Homo sapiens: one gene and its partners. The protein of the gene in region 2 purifies or fractionates together with the protein of the main gene of each other region. This does not show direct contact. Each region holds a gene or a part of one and is shown on either strand. Other genes may lie near its edges.

The links. The genes of interacting proteins can lie anywhere in the genome.
Region 1: the proteins of SATB2 (region 2) and GRHL1 purify together in Homo sapiens (co-immunoprecipitation; one large-scale study listed by IntAct). This does not show direct contact.
Region 3: the proteins of SATB2 (region 2) and CRYBB1 purify together in Homo sapiens (co-immunoprecipitation; one large-scale study listed by IntAct). This does not show direct contact.
Region 4: the proteins of SATB2 (region 2) and CCDC80 purify together in Homo sapiens (co-immunoprecipitation; one large-scale study listed by IntAct). This does not show direct contact.

The regions. Positions count from the first base shown.
Region 1 is NC_000002.12:9,999,093-10,003,927, reverse strand, and holds the end of GRHL1 (grainyhead-like protein 1 homolog), read right to left. Parts: intron 3,336-4,835; coding exon 3,221-3,335; 3' UTR 1,651-3,220; downstream 1-1,650. UniProt on the Homo sapiens protein: Transcription factor involved in epithelial development. Binds directly to the consensus DNA sequence 5'-AACCGGTT-3'.
Region 2 is NC_000002.12:199,345,601-199,350,892, forward strand, and holds part of SATB2 (DNA-binding protein SATB2), read right to left. Parts: intron 3,574-5,292; coding exon 3,101-3,573; intron 1-3,100. UniProt on the Homo sapiens protein: Binds to DNA, at nuclear matrix- or scaffold-associated regions. Thought to recognize the sugar-phosphate structure of double-stranded DNA.
Region 3 is NC_000022.11:26,603,378-26,608,669, forward strand, and holds part of CRYBB1 (beta-crystallin B1), read right to left. Parts: intron 4,686-5,292; coding exon of another isoform or gene 4,683-4,685; exon of another isoform or gene 4,645-4,682; coding exon 4,512-4,644; exon of another isoform or gene 4,445-4,511; intron 1-4,444. Other genes in the region: CRYBA4 (beta-crystallin A4), read left to right, coding at 4,683-4,685. UniProt on the Homo sapiens protein: Crystallins are the dominant structural components of the vertebrate eye lens.
Region 4 is NC_000003.12:112,626,494-112,631,785, forward strand, and holds part of CCDC80 (coiled-coil domain-containing protein 80 precursor), read right to left. Parts: intron 3,777-5,292; coding exon 3,620-3,776; intron 1-3,619. UniProt on the Homo sapiens protein: Promotes cell adhesion and matrix assembly.

The DNA.
Region 1 (4,835 bases), about 190 Mb from region 2:
ACCCCCTCACATAGTGAGTGCTGGGCTGAGGAATCCAGGAGAGCCCGAGGGGGGACACTGAAGGTGTATCGTTGGCCCTGCCAGCTGCAAGTGAACTGCTTCTGATGAATTTTAATAGGGAGAAAGAAGTATTTGCTAAGAATGGCAATCCTGATGCTCAGCCTTCAACTCATCTTGTTATTAATACCATCAATATCCCATGAGGCTCATAAAACGAGTCTTTCTTCTTGGAAACATGACCAAGATTGGGCAAACGTCTCCAACATGACTTTCAGCAACGGAAAACTAAGAGTCAAAGGCATTTATTACCGGAATGCCGACATTTGCTCTCGACATCGCGTAACCTCAGCAGGCCTAACTCTGCAGGACCTTCAGCTATGGTGTAATTTGAGGTCAGTGGCCAGAGGACAGATCCCGTCTACATTATGAGTGAAGCGGAGAGCTACTGCAGGGTTCTGAGCAGAGTCCTAATTTATATTTTAGAAGAATCATCATGGCTCCTAGATTAGGAATAAAACGAAGGGGCCCAGGGATGGAAACGATGAGTCCAGTTGGGTTACTGCAAAGATCCAGGCCAGAAATCCAGGCACAGTGGCACACACCTGAGTCCCAGATAATTCCACCTACTGGTCCTGCTCTGTGGCCTACTGGTCCGAGTCCAGCCCCGACTGATTTCTGGGCCTGTAATGTCTAAAAACGCTCCCTGCTGATGTTTTGCAAGTGACTGTGTTACTTGAAGGCAGTTCCTAGGATAAACTAGTCGCTTTATCATTACAGAATCATTCACTGAGCATCAACTATGTAACCAGCATTGGGTTGGGTGCCAGAGATCCAAAGCTAAGACACCAAAACCTGCTCTCCAGGAAACGAGAGGCTGAGAAGAGGGCCAGCAGGTGTCTGTCAGTACTTGGAGCCGTGAGAGCAGGGAGTGGGTGCTGGGCTGAGGAACCAGAGGTAATGGCCCTGGGGACGCCCGGGAAGAGATGAGTTTTGAGGCAAAGGTAAGTCCCGGGAAGCCAGGGGGTGAAGGAGACCCATGGTGTGAGGAAGGGCTCCCATAGAAAGGATGCGCTGGCAGGGTCCCCAGGCTTCCTGTGTGGAGCTGGACTCTGGAAGCACTGAGTGAACGGGAACCCAGGCTGCAGGAGAGTCTCCACTTTGGCCCGAGGGTTACTGTGAAAAGTGCAGATGTCCCAGGAGCCCTATCAGGGAGTTTACGTCATTAATCTGATCTTGTATCCATTAAAAATATATCCTAGTGTCTATCATATTTAGGCCCTGGATTACCCTGGAATATGTTCAGGACGCCTGTTTTAGAGATTCTAATGATTTAAATATTGGTAAATTTTTAAACTAAGTATTTTCTGTTAGGCTTTTAAACACTAAGAATACTAAGATTTTAGGTATGAAAGCATTTACCTTCAGCTTTAGTGGTTAAATTTTGGTAAGAATTGGAAAATCATTCAGGGATCCCTGACTTAACAATTACGTGGATCATTTCAGGCATCAGTAAGGAAAAGTTAACATGAAGAAAACAACCTAAGCGCACACATTAAGAAATAAGCAGAAAGTGCTAGCAATGAGATGCTTTTCAGCTCTCACGTTTTACTGAGCAGTGCAAAGTCAAATTGAAAAACAGGAAATGACATATTACGAAATAGACATATAAAATTTAATTCCTTTGGTTTAAAATACATCTTCAATGATACAATTAAAAATAACACGCAAGACAAAATCAACTTCATAAAAAATACAAAAGTTATATGACCCATATCCCATATCTTATCTTAGAAAACCAGCAATTTAGTTCCCATACTTCATTAGAATACTTTAACCTAAGACTGTAACTACCAGTCCATTTACACGAATGACCTAGTCTAGTTCCCTGAACCTAAAGATACCCGTGACTTTGTTATAAAATTACATATTTTAGTATTTTTATATACTTAAATGTGTACAAAATGTTCCCCTGCCATAGTAACATATTTTTGTGAATTCATGAATGTTTTCTAGAATTGTTAACATACAAGATAATCAAAGCACGAAGGCTCTGATGCGTGATAAAATAATCATTTCTCAAAACAGGAAGATGAGAACTGCATTTCGAGTTGTATCACTTGGTACGCAATACTTGCAATCTGTGTGCTGTAATTACAGTGTTTCTTCACTCTAAGTGCATCTGACTGATACTAGCATAACAAAAGACGTGATTGCAGTAGTGTTTTTCTTTTACTTCATTTGTTAAACAGTGCAGAAATCCAAATAACAACATTCTCAACAGCAAACAGAATCTCTGTCATTTGAGAAGGTTTTGCTATGCTACAGAATGCCTGTGTTTGGAAAAACAGAGAAAAAGGTTTTTAGCGGGTTCCACTAAGCACAGTATTCTATCTGCTTGGTATACACGATCAAAAAATAACTTAACCTTTGTCTAGGGAAAGTCTTTAAGGTAGCTCTTACTGCATATCTTCACTATATGTACACAGACACCATATTTATATATTATATATTTATATAAGACATGTATGTACACATTTACAGACCTTCAAAAATATATTGCACTTATATACAATGCAGCTTTATCTTAACTGATTTCATACTGTAACCCATTAAAATTCTTCATGAGAAAGGCAGTTGATATGTCCGAGAAAGTCGCAAAGGAAGATTTCAGTAACATGCCCTGTTTAGTAAACATCTGGTGGAGAGTGAGAGGGTAAGGGAGAGAGGGCTCCCCCCGTACTCTTCAGGTGCGCTCCCGCTAACGTGAGGCAGTGGAGTTGTACTGAATTCAGGCAAGGGCACGAAATCCTTAAAGCCAAGCCTATCGCCTTTTCTGACTTCTGCTAGCGAGCAGGCCCACGACACTGTAGGCACAAGGCAGAGATCCCAATATTTTGATAAATAACGTAGCAGATGTCCTAAAGCTTCCCAGAGACTCTGTTAACTCTTGGAATAAAGTTTTCACTTTAAATCCTGTATATATCAGGAAATTCAAACATAATGGTATATGGATTTCTCTTTCATCTGAAAAACACCAATGCAATAGATTAAATGCTACCACCAAGCCAGATGCAGCCCCGCCTCCAACCTGCAAGGAACCCATTCCCTCGACATAGACCTGTGCTGGCGACATGGCTGACTGGGGTTACCTGCAGTTGCCAAACCGTAAGATCTAGAAACACCTGCACTGAACTCCTGGGGAGCTGTGGCCCGCAGGCCTTTAGATCTCCGTCAGGGTGAGCTTGTAAGACCCCCCGGCTTCTTCAATCTGCAGCTGGAAGGTGTCCTCATTGGAGTAATGCTTCACAATGTTGTCGTCCATGTTCACCAGGATCCTGGATGGGGGGGGACAAGACCAACCAACTTCACTGCCACTTGGTCCTGGAGTCAGACCTAGATTGACCTGTTAGCTCTCCCACTTACTAGTTGCAGCATGTGAGGCAAATTATTTAAATCTCCTTAAGCCTCAACTTCCTCATCTATAAAATGGGGATAATAATAGTACCCATCTTATAGGATTGCTGAGAGAATTGAGTTAGGAGGAAATCAGGTGATATATTTATATCATAGCATTTGGAAAATGAAATATACTGGCTTATTTATGATTATTATTTCCAGCATGTATTTCATAGTTGTCACTTGGTAAATGGTACTTGGCTCATACCTGTGATGCCAGCACTTTGGGACGCTGAGGCAGGAGAATCACTTGAGCCCAAGAGTTTGAGACCAGCCTGGATAACATAGCAAGATCCCATTTCTACAGAAAAATTTTAAAAACTAGCTGGACATGGTGGTACATGCCTGTAGTCCCTGCTACTTGGGAAGCTGAGGTGAAAGGATGGCCTGAGCCCAGGAGTTCAAGGCTACAGTGAGCTCTGATTGCACCACTGTACTCCAGCCTGGGCGATAGAGTGAAACCATCTCTAAATGAATAAAGCAAAAGCACATCAATAACACTAACTTACATGATGTGAAGTCACAGCCCCCTGACAAATTACACACTCCAGCAAGTGAGCCTCAAAGTTTAAATGAACTACTATTATCAAACAAAAAATAAAGAATACAAAAACAAGAAAATAAACAAAAATAAATTAACTACTATTAAGTCCAACTCTTTCCACTAGAACCATCTAGAAATTTCCCATTAGAATTTGTTTTAAAACTAAGCCAAAAAATTCTTATGCTAGCCACTGCTTATCCATGCCAAACATCATAGACAGACAAAAAAGAACTAAAAATACTAATTTCTAGACAAAGCAGCAACGTGACATAACTTGGAAATAGGATCCTGAGCAGGAGGGTAGAGCAGGGCATGGGCTGCAGAGGCAGGGAATACCAACCATGGCCCCGAAAAGCCTCTTGAACTCTGAGCCTCAGCCGCCTGTCTATAAATATAAACAAGCCCTGAGACCAGCTCAGAAAGAAGACGTGAAGACCAAGCGCAGCACCGTGGGACGTGCCCAACCCAGTGCCCGGCTCCAACGGGCTCGACACACGGAGGTGCTGCCCTGGCCATCCTCAGTGGCGCTGGCCACACACCCTGGAGTGTGGAGCCATGGCACTGCTGCCAGGCATGTGGAGGGCAAAGAAGGTGACTTGGAGAAACAATACACAAAGATCTCCTCAAGGCAGATCAATTTTATCTAAGTAATTTCGTATATAATTTAGAAAAGCCACATTCCAGCACCCAGGTTTCTTTGGCTGCTTCTGGACTGGGCACGATGCACACGTGTCACACTGGCACAGGGTGTGTGTCACTGGCACAGGAGGGTGTCACTAGCATGCACGGTGTGTTACATGGTGCTGGGGGGTGTCAACAGCACTGGGGGGTGCGT
Region 2 (5,292 bases):
TTGAAGCCTGGTGTCAGTTCTATTCCTCTCTTTATCCATTTATACACTTTCTGTCCATTTTATTTCCAAAATATTTCTTCTCTGCACCCTCCCCAGCAGCCTAGTTCAAAACCTCTGTACATTTCACCTGGATACTTGCAGTAGCCTGCTAAATGATATTCCTACCCTCTTGCTATCAAACCTCCATAAGACCTAATTAAGATGGTGGGAGCACAGCATATTCCTACCTAAGACCTATGACGGTTTCCAGTGCCTGTTAAAGTTCAGAGCTCTTGTCTTGGCACTCAAGGCCTTTTTCAATCTGTGTCCATCCCTTTTAAGTTTTATTATCTACCTTTCTTATCAACTACCAACTATACTTGCAGTTTTTATACTTACAAATTGATAATAACTCTTTACAAGCAAAGAAAATATAAAAAATATCTTTACACCAAAAAGAGTAGTTTTTCCCATAAAAAGGTAGAATATATATAATAAGAGATAACAAAACTTGCCACGAGGCCAGTAAGAAAATCCCAACCATTAACAAAAACTTATTTTTCTTTTTTTCTTTTTCTTTTTTTTTTTTGAGACAGAGTCTCGCTCTGTTGCCAGGCTGGAGTGCAGTGGCGCAATCTCGGCTCACTGCACCCTCCACCTCCTGGGTTCAAGTGATTCTCCTACCTCAGCCTCCCAAGTAGCTGGGATTACAGGCACACGCCACCACGCCCAGCTAATTTTTGTATTTTTAGTGGAGACGAGGTTTCACCATGTTGGCCAGGATGGTCTCGATCTCTTGACCTCGTGATCTGCCACCCTCAGCCTCCCAAAGTGCAGGGATTATAGGCGTGAGCCACCGCACCCAGCACAAAAACTCATTTTTCAATGACTCATTAATCATACGACAATTTCAAAACTAATAAAAATTTAAATCGCCTACATAATAGAAATACATTTCAATTCAACCAGAGATCCAACACACTTTCGAATAAAGAGAGAAAAAATGTATTAACTGACTTAACAAAAACGCTATTTATTTAACTCACGCAGTATTGCTTAAAGAGTATCTACAAAATTCTTACCTCAATGTTTTCTTGCAAGAGACGTGGAAACCAAAAGTAAACAGACCCTCTTTAACAATGAACCACTGATAAACATAAAATATTTATAACTGGTATAACATTTCACTTAGGTGCATTTTTTGAGTGTTAACTTGCATCAGGCAATCCAATTTACCAACATTTATCAGATTTCTCCCCAGTGAGAGTTTTCACTTAACTTTTTTTTTTTTTTTTTTTTTTTTGAGATGGAGTTTCACTCTCACTCAGGCTGGAGTGCAGTGGCATGATCTCGGCTCACTGCAGCCTCCGCCTCCTGGGTTCAAGGGATTCTTCTGCCTCAGCCTCCTGAGTAGCTGAGACTACAGGCACGCATCACCACGCCCAGCTAATTTTTTTGTTTTGTTCTGTTTTAGTAGAGATGGTGTTTTACCATCTTGCCCAGGCTGGTCTTGAACTCCTGACCTCAAGTGATCCGCCCACCTTGGCCTCCCAAAGTGCTAGGACTACAGACATGAGCCACTGTGCCCAGCCCCTTAACTTCTGAAGTAATCATTAAATTTGGAAACATTCCTGTATTTTCCAAATTATTGAGGTTTCAATCCAGCATGCTTTCTTTCATTTGTAAGGTCCATCTACAGCGTGTGTTATCATGTGTCTCTGAACAGGTATCAGATAAATGAAAGCATTCCTACATTCTGTACGTTCACAGGGTTTTTCTCAGAAATCAGTTGTTTTATGTCTTCAAATTATTCCTGCATTTTTTAACTCAACATCTTTCCTATGAATGTCTTTACCTTAAAATAATAATCTTCTTCTTCATCATCTTTGCCTGCTGTACTTTATTAATCCTTCAAGGTCTAACCCATTGACAACCTAATACTCTAGAGTGTTGTTTACATATGTGCTTGCCCATTATCTTTTTCCTCTTTGCACCCACATAGAGCTTAGCTTCCTGCCTTGCATTTACGAGGGTGCTGAAATTTTAATCTACTGTTTTCTTGAAGGCTTACCATATTCATTCTCCTGGAAGTATTCCTCACCTCCAGCTCACCATGAACCTCCACCACAACTATTGCTTACACTCTCCAACATTACTCATAACACTTCACATTTTACTCTAATTATCTGGTTACCTGGTTTTCACCACTAGATCGTTAGCTCCCCGAGATTATGCACATCTGCTTTGTTCTTACTCATATAAGGGCTAGGTAAGTTTTTCTCAACATGCGGCCCCGGATCAGTACCATCATAATCACCTGGGATCTTGTTAGAAATGTCCATTTCTGAGTCCAACCTCAGACTTACTCAATCAGAAACTATGGGATGAGGCCCAGCAGTCTGTGTTTCACAGCCCTCCAGGTGATTCTGATGCACACTCCAGTTTAAGAACTACTAGCAGAAAAGAATGTCTTACATATAAGCACCCTCAATAAAAATAAGACGTGTGAATTAACTGTTTACATTTTCAACATTTAGTGTTATAATTGGCATATAATTCTCTCAAACATTAAAAATAAAAGTAAACTATCCATTATCATTTTATCAATATCTTAAATCTAACTTTTATGTTTTGAAGGATTTTTATAAATTTTTAAATAAAACTTTACTTATAAAATTATAAAACATAATTTTATTTCTTTTATAACGTTCAAAACCAAGGGAAAAAAATAGATTGTCTGGGCATGCATAGTTTTATAATTTGTTTTAAAAAATGGCAAGAGACTGATAATCACAAAATTCAAGATCAGGGTTACATCTGCAAACAGTAAATGGAGAGGATGAGAGAGTACATACCCAAGTCATTAGTAACATTTGGGGTCCTGAGTTGCATGTTGGGTTCAAAGATGTCCATTACCTCATCAAAATTAATCAATTAGTTAATTAATCATGGTCATGCATGGATCAATGGTAATAGCGTTTCATTAACTAAGGATTATTAATTAATCTAATTCTATGTCCTGAGATCCATAAAGCTTTTTAAAGAGATAAAAATAATTATAACCTATCTCAATTCTGTCCCCAGTATTACTGTTAATTACAGTGTTTAATGCTAATTGTACCTGTGTGCGGTTGAATGCCACTCTTGCAAAGACAGCTTGGGACACACTGGCCCTCTTCAGCTCATCTCTGACTTGCTGGTAGATATCTGGAGAGACTTCCACGGAAGAGTTGGTTGGCTCTGGCTTAACTGCTCTGGGGATGGGTGGATGGTTCAGGAACTGCTGGTTGATGGCTTGAGGATGCTGGTGAGCCAGGAGCCGGCTAACGGCAATCTGTTGGTTTATCAGATGGGCCATGGCTATTTGTTGCCTTACAAGTTGTGGACTAAGCTGGGGAGAAAGAAGACCAGGGCTCATGATGGGCTGTAATGCGGGCACTTGGTTTCGGATTGGAGTACTGTGGTGAATTTGGCTGTGAGGAGACTGTTCGTTGGTTTTCCCCAGGGATGCCAGCTGGTTCATATTTGGTAAATGCATTGGACGCTGGCCCAGAACACAATAGTCTGAAAGGTTTTCTCGTTCCACTCTTTCCACTGTTAAGAGATAAAAGTGATAATTAATCATTATTTTCATTGGTACAATTTATTGCTAATATATGTAGAACTGAATTATCATACTTTTGGCATGTTAATAATATAAACATTTTTTCATACAACGATGGAAGCTCCAGCATAAAAGTGATATTCTTTTCTGCTAAATGTTACAATAGATTTTTTTCATGGAACATATGAAAGAAAGTAAAATTATTTGCCACTTCAATTAGTTAAAATTCTTAAAAGTAAGCATTTCTTTAAATAGCCAAGACAGAAACCACTGACCATTCTAAATCCTCTTAGATCCCCCAAGCTCTATCATCTCCCCAATCAACCTTTGTTATAAAAGCACCAGCTGTTCCTATCTTCTGTAGTATGTAGTTAATGGTTATCAGGAAATGACAAGGATAACATCTCCTGCCAAATTAAGTGCTACCTTCTAGTAAAAAGCTCACATAAATATTATTATACAGCTATGGAAATGTTCATTTAAAAATGTCTGCCACATAGTATATCCATTTATTGACTCACTTGCTATCTTTTTTATAGAAATGTTTCTTTAAGAAATTGATATTTTAAACATTGTGCTATGCACTCAGATAAGAAAAAAAATCACAAAATTAATAACATCACCTCAACTTGCCATTAAATGAAGTTCTCCTCAGGTTATCTGCTTTATTACATTATATTGTGCTTTAATAAAGATTAAAAGAATAACTTTGAAAGGGAAAAGTAAGTATCATATATATACAAGCATAAGGCAAGTATTTTTCTTTCCCTAAAATAATGTCTTAGGAAAGACAGTCACCTCATAGCCAAATCCTTATCCAAGTCTCTGTATTACTCTATCATGAAAAACAAAGTTTGGTTTGGAGAAAAGAAATGGGGCTGAAGCAATCCCAACATTATTAGTTTTAAATGCTTATAGGTGTAATATAATCTAACAAGATCTCTTTTTCAAAGCAAAAAATCCATACAAATTTAGAAATTATTTCTTATAATTGCAAATGCTGGATATGACTATGCAAAAGTCCATTAAAGATAACTTTAAGAAGCTAGAGATCAAACATATTCACCTATAGAACACATATAAAAAGTAACTGTCTCCCTATTATACAAATGGAATGTGTGGTTTGCCATATAGTTAACCGTGACAGAATCATGGTTTTATAAAAAAAAAAAAAATACTGAGTCTCAAAAAATTTAGGCAGAAATGATGTGTGCTGGACAACTGGGTGAGATGACTGAAAACAGGGGAGTTGGTGATGACAGACACTGATGCCAAATCACATGTGAAGCACTGAATAAAGTCAATGAACTGTATGGGTGGAAAAAAGTAGTATTTCTAAATTAATACTTCATGTAATATGTGACTTTAAAAATGTATATGTGGAAATAAATTAATACATTAAAATGTGGGTAGATATTTAACTATTTTATATCCATGTCTACAAGTTTTATGCATGCAAAATATCCCATTAGGAAAACATGTGAACACCCGTCTTGGTATCACCTTATATTTAGACATGTACAGTGCTTTTTCCTGCTTTTTAAAGAAACTCAGTTAAGCTGGGCATGGTGGCTCACACCTGTAATCCCAGCACTTTGGGAGGCCGAGGCTGGTGGATCACCTGAGGTCAGGAGTTTGATACCAGCCTGGCCAACACAGCAAAACCCCGTCTCTACTTAAAATACAAAAATTAGCCAGGCATGGTGGCA
Region 3 (5,292 bases), on a different chromosome or scaffold from region 2:
AAATTAGCCAGGTGCAATCACATGTGCCTGTAATCCCAGCTACTCGGGAGGCTGAGGCAGGAGAGTCACTTGAACCTGGGAGGTGGAGGTTGCAGTGAGGCGAGATCACACCACTGCACTCCAGCCTGGGCGACAGAGCAAGACTGTCTCAAACAACAACAACAAAAAAGAATGGGGTTACTATTGCTTCGTGGGATTGTCATGGCTACTCAACTCACGGTTCAGTCCAACTATAAAACAGGCCTGGCCGGGCGCGGTGGCTCACGCCTGTAATCCCAGCACTTTAGGAGGCCAAGATGGGTGGGATCACAAGGTCAGGAGTTCGAGACCAGCCTGACTAACATGGAGAAACCCCATCTCTACTAAAAATACAAAATAATAATAATAATAATAATAATTAGCTGGGCGTGGTGGCACGCACCTGTAGTCCCAGCTACTCAGGAGGCTGAGGCAGGAGAATCACTTGAACCTGGGAGGCAGAGGTTGCAGTGAGCCAAGATTGTGTCACTGCACTCCAGCCTGGGTGACAGAGCAAGACTCTGTCTCAAAAAACAAACAAACAAACAACCAGGCCCACCCTTGAATGTGGGCACATGATTCAGTTCTGGCTTGCACTTATTTTTAATGCTTTCATGACCCTGTATCTTGTTTTTAAAGTTCGTCTGTTATTTCTGAGGGCAGGGATCATCCATCTTTTCAAAAGTCATCATGCACTGTTTTAGGCCCAAGGGTTTGAAGAGCCAAAGAGATGAACAGGAAATAGCAGAGTGATGCCGGACCTCAGTGTCTAGGTTCAAACCCACAGACCTTGGTTCAAATCCCAGCCCCAGCAACTCCCAGCTGTGTGGCCTTAGGCCAGTCATTTTCTACTTCTGAGTCTCAGTTTCCTTGCTTTTAAAATGCATGTTATCATAGCCTGTAGCATAGGACAGTTGTAGGGATTATGTAAAAGGCAGGTAATATACCCAGTACGTAGTTGGTGCTTAAAAATGGATGCTGTGATTATCTACTGTTATTATCTACTGTTATTCACCACCACTAGGAGGAAGAGGAGCCCAGAACGTAAGTGCATCCTTCTGTGAAAGACTCCAGTAGGAGATTATAGATGAAGAAAGAACTGGTTAATTCTTCCAGAGAAAAGCAGAGCAGATCAGGGAAGGCTTCATGGAAGAAGTGACACTAGAGAGGGACCTTGGAGGTTAAGGAGGAGTGCACAAAGCTGAGAAGGGAAGGAGGGTTGAGGGAAGGCACTGAGGCAGAGAAGGCATAGGCAAAAGCTGGGAGGTGGGAATGTGCAAGACAATATCTGTGTGGCCAGGGTGCAGGAAGGCAAGTGCAAGGTGCCAGGCAGGGATGTAAGCACAGGGGACCCTTTGGGGCATGGCAAGACAAATGCCCTTAGTGCAATTACCAGCCAGTGGTAAAAGTACAACAATGATTACTTATTACTGTTACGGTCTTGAGGGCCTTGGGAAGGTTGTTAGTCAATGGCTCCCCACTGCTAGAGGGGTCAAGACTGAACTTGCCACCACCTATGAGACCCTACAAGACCCTGGTCTCCACCACCACCTCCCCTCCCATCTTGCCTCCCTCTTTCCTCCACTCCCTCTGCTGCAGCTTTGTTGGCCACCTTTAATTTTCTTGGTCCCACCAGTCCATCGTTGCTCTAGGAGTTTTGCACACACTGTTCCCTGGAAGGCTTTACCATCTGCTCTTCACGTGGCTGAGTTGGTTTCCAAACTTTGGGAGCTGGCTTCCCTGATGACCCCCTGACCACTCCCACCTCTAACAATATCTGAGCCCCCAGTTCCTGCTTCTGCTTTCCTAGTTAGATTGCATGGCCTTTGTGTAACACCTACCACAGTTTGCAATTGTAGATGGATTTTTATGATTAGCTTTTTGATAGCTGCCTCCCTGGGTAGCTTAAGTCCCATGAAGACAGGGACCTAGTCTGTTTGATGCACAGTTTTGCACTCAGAGCCTAGAACCAGAGCCTGGCAGAAACAGGCCAACTGGTTGGGCGCACTGGCTCATGCCTGTAATCCCAGCACTTTGGGAGGCCCAGGCGGGTAGATCACTTGAGATCAGGAGTTTGAGACCATCCTGGCCAACATGATGAAACCCTGTCTCTATAAAAAATACAAAAATTATCTGGGCGTGGCGGTGCACACCTATAATCCCAGCTACTTGGGAGGCTGAGGCAGGAGAATTGCTTGCCCCAGGGAGGTGAAGGTTGCAGTGAGCCAGAACGTGCCACTACACTCCAGCCTGGGCAACAGAGTTAGATGTGTCTCAAAAAAAAAAAAAAAAAAAAAGGAAAATAGAAACAGGCCAACCAAAATGTCTGGGTTCAAGTAGAAGATGGTCAGGTTTATTTTTTTTTTTTATTTTGAAAAGATCCCTCTAACTTCCCACGACAGGGGGCTGGAAAGGAGTCAGGGAACCCAGCAGGGAGAGAGCTGAAGATGACCAGGTCAGAGATGATGGTGGCCTGGACCAGGACTGTGGCAGGGCAGAGAGAGGAAGGGTTAGACCAAGCTTATTTAACCTGCGGCCTGCAGGCCACATGTGGCTCAGGATGGCTTTGAATGTGGCCCAACACAAATTTGTGAACTTTCTTAAAACATTATGAGATTTTTTTTGCAATTGTTTTAAAGCTCATCCGCTATCGTTAGTGATAGTGTATTTTATGTGTAGCCCAAGACAATTCTTCCAGCGTGGGCCAGGGAAGCCAAAATATTGGGCACCCCTGAATTAGATGGTTGGATCTCAGCCCTGGCTGCACAGACGGACTACTTAGAGGGCATAGAAAAGATAGCAGTGCCGGAGTTCCAGCCCTAGAGATTCAGAATTAATTGGTCTGGGGTGGGGTCTAGGCTTTGAGATTTCTAAACATTTCTAATAACATATTTTATTTAAACAAATATACCTAAAATATTATAATTTCAATATGTAACCAATATAATGATATCAATGCATTGTTGACATTCTTTAAAATTTTTTTTACTATGTATTCAAAACCTAATATGTATTTTACACTTATGACACATCTCCATTTAGCCAAAATTCAAGTGTCCAATGGCCACATATGGCTACTGCCTATTATGTTGAATAGCAAGCTTCTAGAAGCTACTGGAAATGCCCTGGTTGATCACTCTTCCAAACAAACCCCTTAACATAGGTTGGCATATAAGAACCATTCAATGATTGAGAGAGACATCTGTGAATTCTTACAGAGAGTGCATCATGAAGGCAAATAATTCAGTCTTACATTCTGCGAAAAGTGTTGGGAATGATCTGTTTGAATAATCCATTAAGATAAATTTGGTGATGTCAAAACAGCTGGTGGTTGGCACTTGATAGCCTCAAATGCACATTCATGAAAATTCTTATAAATGTTCCCATCATGGAAGACAAAAGTCGGTTACCATCAGCAACTAACATTGGTGAGTAAGATGTAGCTGGTTCATGACTCATCATCAACTTAATTCTGGAAAAAACTGTGAATCACTTGGAGATATCGCCACCATTTTGACCTTGAATCTTCTGGAAGTTGACTTAGTTAAATATTATAAGAAACTAATTCAGTATATTGTCTTATTATTAAGAGGTTCAAGCTGCGTTTCTACAGTATCCCTCTCCTTTTTTTTTTTTTTTTTTTTTGAGATGGAGTCTGGCACCGTCACCCCGGCTGGAGTGCAATGGCATGATCTCGGCTCACTGCAACCTCTGGCTCCCGGGTTCAAGTAATTCTCCTGCCTCAGCCTTGCTAGTAGCTGGGATTACAGGCATGCGCCACCACGCCCGGCTAATTTTTGTATTTTTAGTAAAGACGGGGTTTCGTCATGTTGATCAGGCTGGTCTTGAACTCCTGACCTTGGGTAACCACCCACCTCAGCCTCCCAAAGTGCTGGGATTACAGGCATGGGCCACCATGCCCGGCTACAATATCCCTCTTCTTAGCCATTGCATGATCTGCAACCAGCATGTTTGGTGTTTCGAATGGGCACTGAAATTTGAAAAGTTTTCCCAGGCCTGGCATGGTGGCTCACGGCTGTAATCCTAGCACTTTAGGAGGCCCAGGCGGGAGGATCACTTGAGGCCAGGAGTTCAAGGCTGCAGTGAGCTATGATCACACTACTGTACACCAGGCTGGGGGACACAGCAAAACCCCATCTTTGGGAAAAAAAAAAAAAAAAAAAGCTCCCAGTAAGGTCTAAATGTGCAGCCAGGGATATCAAGAGAATCAAGGAAGATGCTGAAGTTTTTAGCTCTAACTTGGAAGCTTTTGTGCTTATCATTTGCCCAGGGTTCCTAGCTGGGTATGTAGTGAGTGTGTTAAGGACACTGATGAATTGATGAGCTCAAGAATCCACGGTCCTTTGACAACTCGGAGGCTGCCACGCCTCCCTACCCACCATCATCTCCTTCTTGCCCTTGTCAGATCTCAGACTTACACCTGCCCTGCCCCGCCTGGCTGATTCTCCAGCCCCAGCCGGAGAGCCACTCACCATTTTGATGGGCCGGAAGGACATGAGCCGATCACTGCGGTAGCTGCTCGACCATGTGTTCCAGCGAGGGTACTCGCCCTTCTCCAGGATGAACATCTCCCCGCGGAAGTTGGACTGCTCAAAGGCGACCCAGCTGGATACAAGAAGGACCATGAGGCAGACAGGAGACATATGGTTAGTAGAAGCCCCCACTCCCTACTTGCCTTTCTCTCTCCCCTGGCAAGGCAGCCCTGAGGACAGTAGGAAAGTCCAAAGGGGGCTGAACATGTCTGGGTTTGATTTTAGGCTCTGACACTTACAGGCTGTGTGACTATGGGCAAGTGACTTTACCTCTCTGAGCCTTTGTTTCTCATCTACACTCATATGCCTGTTTCCTTGGAGTTGGTGAAGGATTAAGTGAGATAAATGTGTGTGATTATCTGAGCACACTGTTTCTCTAGATGTAAGGTTCATACATGCTTCAAGTACTATCAGGACTTGGAGCCAAGGAACACATAGACATTTGAAACTTGACGCCAGCTAGGAGAAAGGCTCGTTTGATGTTAATGTGCCTTTAACACTTACTAATCTCTCCTTTTTTTCTTTTGTAACAAAGAGAGAAAAGACCACTAGCCCAGAACCTCCAGCAGACAATGGTGTAATAGCAACATAATAATACCACTTTTGTGTTTATTGTTAATTTTGTATGGATACCTTTTACTTATAGGAAATAATACTAGCCTTCCATTTGTAAAAAGTGGTGTCAGGGTTCTTTTAAAATGTGTTTATTTGTGGTTAGCAG
Region 4 (5,292 bases), on a different chromosome or scaffold from region 2:
GGTATTTTAGACTGATTTGTATACTATCATTCTCATTTTGTTTATTTATTGATTTATTTATCTATTTATTTTGAGACAGAGTGTCACTTTGTCACCCAGGTTAGAGTGTACTGGCATAATCTTGGCTCACTGCAACCTCTGCCTCCCAGGTTCAAGAAATTCTCCTGCCTCAACCCCCCAAATAGCTGGAATTACAGGCATCTGCCACCATGCCCAGCTAATTTTTGTATTTTTAGTAGAGATGGGATTTCACCATATTGGCCAGGCTGTTCCCAAACTCCTGGCCTCAAGTGATCAGCCTACGTCGGCCTCCCAAAGTATTGGGATTACAAGCATGAGCCACTGCACCTGGCGTACCATTCTCATTTTAAAAATTGACTTATGAAGTCATTAGATAGTAAGAAATCAACATTTTCTCTCTCCTTGTTGCCATATTCCACCTCCATGAACTTTGCTACCTCTCTTGATTACCCTCAAACTCTCCTTTCTTTGAAAGAAGTTATCAAAAAACTTCCCTTGCCCTATTAAATGTCCTGTGTATTCTAGCTCTTAAAATTTGGTGATAAAATGCCAATGTTAAAATATTTTTCATCTCTAAATATTGCTAAGAAAGAAACATGCTTGCTGTGCATTTCCCCCCACTTCTTTTTTCATTCTGCAATGAAGTGCCTTTAGCCAGCAACTTTTTCCTATCTGACAAAATTTGTCTGTAATCCATTCACTAAACATACACACCCAACATTCCTATCCTAGACTGACATTTTAGATATCACTAACAAGAAAGAATGCCTTTATGTGTTAGGCCATTTTAAACCCCACATGCAATATACTCTGTGCTGACAAAACCAGATAGGCATTGGAATTTGCTCAAGCATAAATAACTTTATTTACATGAAAGCCTAAAATCTTAAGGTAAGTTTCTTGGCGTTTGTAGGTTCATCAGTGATGTCCAAATACTTTTAGCAAGATGGACCAGCTGGTGAGTACGGCCCACACTGTAGTTGGATGTGTGCCCCTGCTTTCAAGGCCCAGTAAAAGTCTGGAATAGTAGGCAGAGCTTGATTTATTTTTAAGGAAAAGTAAGGCCATCTGATAGATTTCCAGCTGAAAGTCAGTCAAGGCTGGAGTTTTTTGGTTCACTGAGCCCATGGCTCATGCCAATTCTTTTTATCCCATGGCCGACTCCCAGTCTTGGCTCACAGTGCTACAGCCTTTCCCATAAGGGTAAACTGGGACATGACACAAGGAAAGAGAGGCCTTCCAGGAATTAGATGAGAAACAAAATAAAAGATCTCCCACCCCAAAATCAGGTCCCGGCTACCATTCAGTGAGGAAAATGCCCAAATCATAATACCTGATTTCCAATAAGGCAGAAAAAAAAAAAAAAAAGACCCACAGCCCCTCTACAGTTCATATTCAATCCAGATGTCTAGAAAACAGTAGGATTATGCTAAAAATTTGCCAAGGCAGTACCAGATGCTTATAATGGGACCATATAGAAGTTGAGGTGGAAGATGTAATGATTTTTCCAAGCTTCTCTGAAATAAGGAATGAGAACACTTTGTGAAAGTGTTGGTAGGTAACACATTTGACACTGGGAACACCTGGTTTGTGAGGGCTTTCATCACTAGCCAGCACCAGTCTTTGTGCTGGATTGAATACTTACTTCCTTTCTGGACATCTGGAGTGTAATTAAGCTCACTGCCCTCATGCTATTATTTGAAAAATCCAGGAAACAAATGGTTGAATCCTAGTTAGCCAATAAATACGTGGCTTTGTAGTATTAGTCTCTTGGGCTTCAGTTTTATCACCAAGAATAATAATGCAGCCTGATCTGGATGAGCTGTTGTGAGGGTTCTTGTGTCAACATTCTGTAATCAGCACAAAGCAATAACAAGTATTTTGCCATTATAGGTGCTCTAGTGACAAGTGTGACAGCTCATTGATTTCCAGATGACTACCAGATCAAATGGTGATGCAGAGGATGACCACATAATAGTGCCTATTACCTGACTGGCATTTCTGTATACTATCTTATTTAATCCTGTGAAATAGATATGATTATCTTCTAAACTAAGACTTAGGAGTAGCTTGCCCAAGGTCACACAACAAGTAAATTGTGACCCTGGATTTAAATCTGTCTGTCTCCAGAATTCATTTTGTGTCTTTTGTTTGTATGATCATTATTGTTGTTTTGGTTAAGAAAATTCCTTTTTTGCTTGTTCTCCCCCTAAATTATACACACAGTGCAGGATAAATGTCTAAAAATAAATCATCAATCCACAATAATTTATGATGGGACATTGGAAAAGATGCTATTTATTTTTCTTTTGTAGCCACCTCAGAGGAAGGTGGGCTATTTAAAGTAGAGAATGCATAACTGATACTTTACCCTGAATCAGCTCTAGAGATCTGCCGTACAATATTGTACCTATAGTTATCAATACTGTATTGTGCACTTAAAAATGTATTAAGAGGGAAGATTTCACGTTAAGTGTACTTACCACAATAAAAAAAATATGATTTAGAAGGCTAGACCATATTCAAATCAAGTTGACATTATCGTGACATAATATAACTAGTATGTCTTCAATTACACCAAGATCGTATGTCAGAAAAATCTGTGTGATAATGTTATGTGTATTGAAGTTAAATGTTGACTAACAAATAATTAGTTATATATTACTAAATATATTTTATATTCTTTCAAGTGCTTTTAGATGAAATATATTTTACGGAAACTATGCAGAATATGCAAACGATGGAATATAAAGGATTACTCTAAGGTTTTTTTTTTTTGTAGTTAAACCATGAACAACAACAAAACAGTAGAAAGTGCATATAAGAAAAAAAGCTTTTTAAAAAATAAAGCCCTAGAGATGCAATAATTATGAAATAAACTGGGTGGGTCATATTTTGGGCTTCTGACTATGAGGCTTAACTAATCACAGTAAATCTTGCAACGTTCCCAGGAGAACTGCAATGAGTTAGATCTCAGCTGTCCAACACTGGGCTGTACGCCTCATGAGTCTCACATGCACCATTCATATGTAAAATTGCGAAAACTCTAAATTCAGCCAAATTCTTCTACTCTCCAAAAGGACTTGGGTGCAGTTCAGTCCATATTTTCAGTGACTTTTCATTTATCTTAACAGCTTCTCTCAGTTCTGGTTAATTCCTTCCTCAGGCTTGCCAGAGTCAAGTACTTCCGAGAGTCTGGCAAGTCCCATCTGTGATGAGTCACCTGCAGCGGAGAGTCTGCAGGAAGATCAGACGGGGCTGCTCACAGGCGAGAAGACTCAGTACCCAGAAAAAGTGTCTGAATGCCTCTCTGATTCTCTCCCACACTGTGTTACTTTTCCCATTTTCTTCCACCTTACTGACTTTCAGACAATAGAGTGTTTGCGTATTTTTCTTTTTTACAGTGCTTAAAACTTAAACGAGAACCATCCTGGAATGGCTATTTAAATAAGCAGGCAAACTGACCTGTGTTATCACAACCAAAGAGCCCTCTGAACATCTTCATTTTCTTTTGGATCCCCCATGTACCTCTACCATAAAGTTTGTCCCACCTTAGATATGAGAAAAACAATAATATAATTAAAATGTTTAAGAGAACCTAGCTGAAAGTGGTCGATTTTCATGGTGCTGTTGTTGACAGGGCCGAAGATGGTGATCACAGAGATTTTCCTGGTAGCCATCTTGCAGAAACTTTCCAGATATTCATCACGTTGTTGCACATACATATTGTTCTCAGCCTTGGGAGCAGTGATCAGCTGGAGGTGGGTGAAGACAAACAAATACTCATTTATAGTGATAGTTTCACACTGAAGCAAAACCCAAAGAGATGATTTGGAAGAGAGGGCTGGTAGTGACTGCATCTAAGCTACAAATGTTCTGCTGAACAGTTAGCATAATTAGGACCAAAAAGGGCCATTTGAAAAGGCCTCTTTTTGTCTCCAAGACAGCTTGGAGTTTTCTACTCACTTCCATTATTTACCTCCATTACTAGCCTCCACATGTCTCACTTTTCTTATTTGTGAACTCTGCAAAGGAATATTTATTTTGCAAGGCTGCTGTGAACATTACATGAATACTTGGCATGCAATAATTGTTCAATAAATGTTATTTTCCTTCCCTAATTTTGATCTTCATTATTCTCACTGGCTGATTAGATATTGGTTAATACAGTGGTTACTACTATTATTCACATTTCACAGGGTTAAGAGAGTTTCATAGCCAGGCCCTGGGCACTACGAAACATTCTGTGATTTAGAACTCTTATTAGAAAACCTTGCAGAAAGGTTTTATGATGACTTTTAGGCCTACGTTTTGTCACATAGAATATATTCACTGTCACATTCAGCCTGCACAGAGTTGGTGGTGTTTGTCTTTTGATATTGCAGTTTTCCAACAGGATGTTTTTTACTCTAAGTTTAGCCCTCTCTTTGGTTCAGACCTGGTATTTTTCACCTAGCCCTCTGTCTTTCATCCTCATCCTATGACCCCTGTCTTCTGGGGGAAAAAAAAAAGAGGAAAGACAAAGCAATCAAAAGAAATACTTTAGTCACCAGAAATCTGAGAAAATGTAATTTATTTTGGATACAGTAAGGATAACCCTACTTTTAAGAGGTCCTCTTGAATCTTTTCTCTGAGAACGTCTCACTATTTTTATCTAACCTAATACAAAAGCTTCTCTACTCTCTTGATTAATTTAGCTGCCCTTCCCTGAGCCTTCTCCAATTTTACCAATTTTACTCAATCCTTGAGCTGAAGCTAGAACTCTGTTCCACATCCCACAAGCTAGTGGGCATAATGCTGCTTACCTTGGAGGTGGGAGGATGTGAAATTTTATTGTGATGATGACCAGGTCTTTGTTGAGATCCTTGATCCCAAATAGATCACCAGGCTGATGTCTGCAATGAACGCTGTCTATTTGCCCTTTGTTGCATCATCACTAAGCTCAGAAGCAAACCTCTATAAATCATTTTTCTGTAAACAACTTTTTGCATTTGACTAAATACAAATTTATCAGCCAATTTTCTTGCATTTGACTACATTCAAATGTATCAACCAACTTTCTATTTATCCGCCTAAACTTATAAACTATTTCCGATATTTATGACTATTACCTTGGCATTTTTCAGAGGGCAAATCACCAGGCTGTGTACCTCTTCCAAATATTTTATCAAAAATGGTTAATAAATCTGGTCTCAGCTTGATCCTGCTGTTTATTTTTCTCTGTCAGAGATGTCTGTATTGCTACCTGCAGGCTTTCCCTTCTAAGAATTC